2 separate regions of the Homo sapiens genome follow, and region 2 is linked to region 1. Evidence: fine-mapped expression QTL. A gene starts in region 1. The other region holds a variant in brackets. All regions are shown on one strand. Distances are between the middles of the regions. Region 1 holds the start of KIAA0930. Region 2 overlaps KIAA0930.

Region 1 (2,722 bases):
CCTCACTGCTCACCTTTCTACAGAGCCCTCCTGGGCCTGGCACTGGGGACACAGAGGGGTCAGATGTGGCTCTGCTCTGAAGAGTTCAGGGGCCAGTGGCACAAAACTGGGGCAGAGGCCTGAAGCAGGATCCAGATCCCATCTCCCTTCTGGGGCTCTGCCCAACCCCACGGCTCCTTCCTGCTGTGCCTCCCAGGAAGACCCCTGCGTCCCCATCAGACCTCTCCATCATTCTTCGTTTATGCAGCCTACATTTTTTTTTCTTTTCTTTTCTTTTTTTTTGGGGGGGGACAGGGTCTTGCTCTGTCTCCCAGCTTGGAGTGCAGTGGCGGGATCTCGGCTCACTGCAGCCTCCGCCTCCCAGGTTCAAGCAATTCTCCTGCCTCAGCCTCCAGAGTAGCTGGGATTACAAATGTGTGCTACCATGCCCGGCTAATTTTTGTATTTTTAGTAGAGATGGGGTTTCACCATTTTAGCCAGGCTGTTCTGGAACTCCTAACCTCAGGCAATCCACCTACCTCGGCCTCCCAAAGTGTTGGGATTACAGGCATGAGCCACTGTGCCCAGCCTGCAGCCCATATCTATTTATTGGGCATCTAATGTGTGCCAGGCAATGTTCTGGGTACTGAGACAACAGCTGTGTAGTAGACAGGCCCCTCCCTCGGTAGAGAAGAGAACAAGTGAACCCATAGGTATCCAATGTGTCGGGAGGAGGTAAGTGTCACCCTGTGAAGGAGAAACAGACTAAGGGAAGAGAGAGGGAGGGAAGGCGGTCAGGGGAGTTTCTTTGAGGATGTGACACTCGGGACACAAAGGAAGCAAGTTACACAGGAATGGGGAGAAGAGGACTCCAGACAGGGGAAAGGGGGACCTTGATGGGTCTGGGGTCCACACACAGGCTGTGAATGCAGGGAGTGATGTAGATTTAGCTTTGGAGAGACCTGGAAATCAATGCTGGTCTCTCCATCTCCCCCTGTTCTTGGAAATGGACCACCAGGCGTGAGGTTTGGGGAGGCCACTGGCTGCTTCTCCGGTGTCTTCCTGTATCAGCCACAACTAGCACACGGAGGGATGCTGGCCAGACCTGGCTTCATCAGGATGACACGCCCAGCTAACCTCATACCTCCCCCTTCATCAACACTCCCCCATGTTGGGGAGGCAAGGCAGGGAAAGGTCCCCCATGGTGCAGCTGAGGAAATGGAGGCGCAACACTCTGCACTGTGCCAGGTGCAGAGGAGGGGGGCCGGAAGGGCTTTGCCACGGTGTCCCCCAGGAGACCACCTTCTGGGAGCAGGTGACCTCTTGAGGGGTTCTGCGGAGGAAGTTCCCAGAAGTCAGCCGAGGGGACTTGGTGGAGGTGGCAACGCACAGGGCGGGTGACAAAGTACACATCCCGTGGGGTAGCAGCGGGGGAGGGGAGAGGTGCCCTGAAGGGGCGGCGGGAGGGGCTCAGAGGCGTGATCCCGTTGGTGGGGCGTTTAGGACCTTGGGTGGAGGCGGGACCCCGCGAGCGGTTTGAGGGAGGCTGTCCTGGGCATCCGAAGATTGGCGGAGACTGGCCGTTTGGAAGTGGGCGGGGCAAGGGAGGTCAGGGGGCGGGGCCAGGGAGCCGGGGTGGGTCCGGGCCGTTCAGAGGCGGGGCGGGAGGGGACAGGGGCGGGGCCGGGGCGGGGAAGGGGCGGGGCCGGACCGGGGCCGGGCCGGGCCGGGGCGGGGCGAGCGGAGCCGGGGGCGCGCGGGCGGCGGCGGCGCGGAGGTGCGCTCGCCGGTGCTGTGTTTGGCGGGTGGTGGCGGCGGCGGCGGCGACGGCGACGCGCACAGAGGCGGACTGTGGCTTCCTTGGTGCTCGCGGCGGGCTGCGGGCCGGGCCGCCCGCCCTCCCCGCCGCCGCCGCCCCCGAGCCTGCGGGCGGCGCCGAGGCCGAGGAGCGCTCGCTGCAGCACATGCTGCGTGCCATAGCGGAGGAGCGCGGCCGTCTTAGCCTGCGCCGCGAGGTCTGCGGCCTCGGTGAGTGGGACCCGGGGGCGAGGCCGGGCCGGGAGAGGTGAGCGTCTCCGGGGCCGCCTCTGCGCGTCCGTGTTTCTGTGCGCCCCGCGCATCTCTGTCTCTGCGCGGGTGTCGTGGTCTCTGGGTCTGCCTGGGTACCCTGTCTTCCTCCATGGCCCCCCCCCCACCGTCCCTGCATCTGGGTCTGTCTCTGCTTTCCGTCCGACGAGCGCCCCGCACCCCTGTGCCCGGGTCTCATTCGGCGTCTCCCCCTGTCAGTCCGTCCGGGTGTCTGTCTCATCTTCCTCCTTCTTCTTCGTGTCTCTGCGGGTCTTCTTCCTTCTCCAGGAAGCCCGCCCCGGGCCCTCAGCACCGCGGTAGGGAGTGTGGGCGTGGGATCTGGGTACACCCTTAGCCCAGCGCGGCAGGGTCGGGCCCTCGTTGGGCTCTGGGTGGACCTCGCTGCGAGCGTGCCCTGGCCACTGTCTCCTGCTACCCGAAGCCTTTGTCTTTCCGCACCCACCGGCCCCTCTCATCCCTTAGCTGTATCCAGGGACCTGTTGGGCAATGGCCCCCCGAACCCGCCCGCTTGGCTGAGGGGCAGGGCCTGCTGCCTCTCGGTGTGATTCTGGGCTTTAAGTCATGGATCTGCTGGGGGGCGTGGGATGGGGGTGCCTCGTATTGTTTGGAAGGGCCTGGGACTGCAGGTGTGGGTGGGGTCTCCCAGCCAGTGAGG
Region 2 (3,017 bases), 34 kb after region 1:
GCGTGGATGGGCAGGAGCTGCAGTGTCAGGGGGACAGGATGCCAGGAACCCCGAGTGCTCCAGGGCCCAAGGGACATCCCCAGTCCAGCCTTTCCCAGGGAGGGATGTCCTGGATTCCCTGCCCTCTGTTTCCTCCAGCCCTGGACAAAACGCTCTGTGTTCCTGGGCAGCCCATTGTGTGCCTTTGGCAGGAGGGGGACCTGGCTCTGTGTGCTGCTGGCTCTGCGCTGGTGGCCGGAGCCCTGTGTCTCACGGTCACGTGACACCTCAGGATCCTAAGGTGCCGATCACCTTCACACCCACTCAGAAAACCAAAGCTCAGAGACGGGGAGGAAGCTTCCTGGGGTCACACAGTTTGCCAGCGGCGAAGCCCTGTCCCCAGTCTCACTTTTTCCTTTTTAGTAGATTGTTTTCAATATAACGTCTATACAGAAAAACACAGACGTGTACACAGTTTGATTCTTCTTAGACTGAACACCTGGTTTCACCAGCCCCCAGATACAGAGTGTGATGAGAACACCGAGGCCCCTTCACCCCACCCCAGGGCTCAACCTCCCCCTGGGCAGCTGCTGCTCTGTCTCCTCAAACTTCCCGGGCGGGTTCTGCCTGTTCTCACAGCTCCTGCATGTGGAGTCGGTGGGTTCTGCCTGTTCTTACAGCTCGTGCGTGTGGAGTCGGTGGTTCTGCCTGTTCTCACAGCTCCTGCGTGTGGAGTTGGGTTCTGCCTGTTCTCACAGCTCGTGTGTGTGGAGTTGGCGGGTTCTACCTGTTCTTACAGCTCGTGCATGTGGAGTCGGTGGTTCTGCCTGTTCTCACAGCTCATGTGTGTGGAGTCGGTGGTTCTGCCTGTTCTCACAGCTCATACATTGGAATCGGGCAGTATATGTTGTTTCAGGCTTCTTTCTCCGCATGTCATGTTTGTGAGTCATGCCTGTTGACACAGGTGGTTGTAATCTGGTCTCACTGCTGTGTAATGCCTGCAGAGTGTACCATGGCGGCCTGGCCACCCTCCTGTCAGTGGGTACCGGGCAGCTCCCAGTGTCCTCTTGGGCCTGGCTTTGGTGCGCACACGGACACCTTTCTGATGGGGAACCTGCTCTTTCGCCTGCCTGTGCTGTGGTGCTGCCCCGAACAGCCGTGTGATCGTGCCCCCGAGCCTTTCATTCACTGAGTCCACAGCGCTTTGCTGAGCAAAAGCAAATGAACAGGTCAATGAAGCGAGACCAGGAGGAACAGCAGAGTCTTGTGAACCCCAGGACTCTCAGCTCAGGGGCTCGGGGTGACTGCAGAACCATACAGGCGGTGGAAGTGGGGCCCCCCGACCCGGGGACGTCTGTTTCTCGCTCCTAGGCAAGGTTGGCCTCTTGCACCTCTTTCCATAGATCCCAGCTCTGCCTTTGGGGGGTGCAGGCCTGTGCACCTGCAAGAGGGCCCAGCAGTGCCCAGCCCCTCGGAGCCCGAGTCAGTGAGAGCACCCAGGACCGGGACCAGAGGCCCCCAGTCAGCACAGCTGCTTCAAAATTGAAAGCCAGGCTGGGCGCGGTGGCTCACGCCTGTAATCCCTGCACTTTGGGAGGCCGAGGTGGGTAGATCACTTGAGGTCAGGAGTTTGAGATCAGCTTGGCCAACATGGTGAAACCCCGTCTCTATTAAAAAAAAAAAAAAAAA[AT/T]TACGTGTGGTGGCAGACGCCTATAATCCCAGGTACTTGGGAGGCTGGGGCAGGAGAATCACGTGAACCCAGGAGGTAGAGGTTGCAGTGAGCCAAGATTGTGCCACTGTACTCCAGCCCGGGTGACAAAGCAAGACTTCATCTCAAAAAAATAAAAAAATAAGAAATAAATTGAGGCCGGGTGCAGTGGCTCATGCCTGTAATCCCTGCACTTTGGGAGGCCGAGGTGGGTAGATCACTTGAGGTCAGGAGTTCGAGATCAGCCTGGCCAACATGGTGAAACCCCCTCTCTATTAAAAATACAGAAAAAAATTAGCCAGGTGTGGTGGCAGACACCTGTAATCCCAGCTACTTGGGAGGCTGGGGCAGGAGAATCACATGAACCCAGGAGGTAGAGGTTGCAGTGAGCCAAGATTGTGCCACTGTACTCCAGCCCGGGTGACAGAGCGAGACTCCGTCTCAAAACAATAAATAAGAAATAAATTGAGGCCGGGCACGGTGGCCCATGCTTGTAATCCCAGCACTTTAGGAGGCCGAGGTGGGCAGATCACCTGAGGTCAGGAGTTCGAGACCAGCCTGGCCAACATGGTGAAATCCTGTCTCTACCAAAAATACAAAAAGTAGACAGGTGTGGTGGCACGTGCCTGTAATCCCAGCTACTCAGGAGGCTGAGGCAGGAGAATCATTAGAATCCAGGAGGCGGAGACTGCAGTGAGCCAAGATGTGTTGCACTGTAGCCTGGGTGACGGATGGAGTGAGATTCTGTCTCAAAAAAAAAAAAAAATTGGAAGCCAGTCTCCCAGGAGAGGTGTAGACATGCTTTGGTTTCTCTCTGATATGTATTTATTATTGATCTTCAGTAAATTTGACTCTGATCTGTTAACATGGGGCTAATGATACCTGCATTGCAGGGTTGCTTTAAAAGGATTAATAATTTGTAAAATGTGTAGCCCAGACCCCGCCGTCCACTAAGAGCTCAGTAGGTGTCACTATTATCATTGATGCCACTTAGCAAATATGAGCTCTTTAAATCATTATGACAACTTTGAGGGGAAGATGCCCTTAGTCCATTGTACAGATGAAGAAACTGAGGCTTAGTGAGGAGAATGGATGGCCCCTGGGTCCCATCTCCCGTCGCTAGAGAACTGGGGAGCAAGAATTGGAGTTCTGGCCGGGCATGGTGGCTCACACCTGTAATCCCAGTACTTTGGGAGGTCGAGGCAGGAGGATCACCTGAGCCCAGGAGTTCAAGACCAGCCTGGACAACATGGCGAAACGCCACATCTACAAAAAGTTTTAAAAATTAGCCGGGTGTGGTAGCACGTGCCTGTGGTCCCTGTTGCTTGGG

What was found.
Region 2: its variant is fine-mapped to the expression of KIAA0930 in prefrontal cortex (ROSMAP, PIP 0.95).

Annotation. Positions count from the first base shown.
Region 1 is chr22:45,239,925-45,242,646 of GRCh38, reverse strand. It overlaps KIAA0930, which reads left to right and starts at 1,753. Exons shown (of 10, transcript NM_001009880.2): 1 at 1,753-2,007. The coding sequence starts at 1,944. RefSeq lists silencers at 1,430-1,629, 1,660-1,719, 1,880-1,939, 2,090-2,179.
Region 2 is chr22:45,206,138-45,209,154 of GRCh38, reverse strand. All of the region lies in intron 2 of KIAA0930, which reads left to right. Among named protein-coding and RNA genes, the nearest start is that of MIR1249, 6.6 kb to the right of the region's middle. The variant AT/T (reference allele first, on the strand shown) is at 1,669.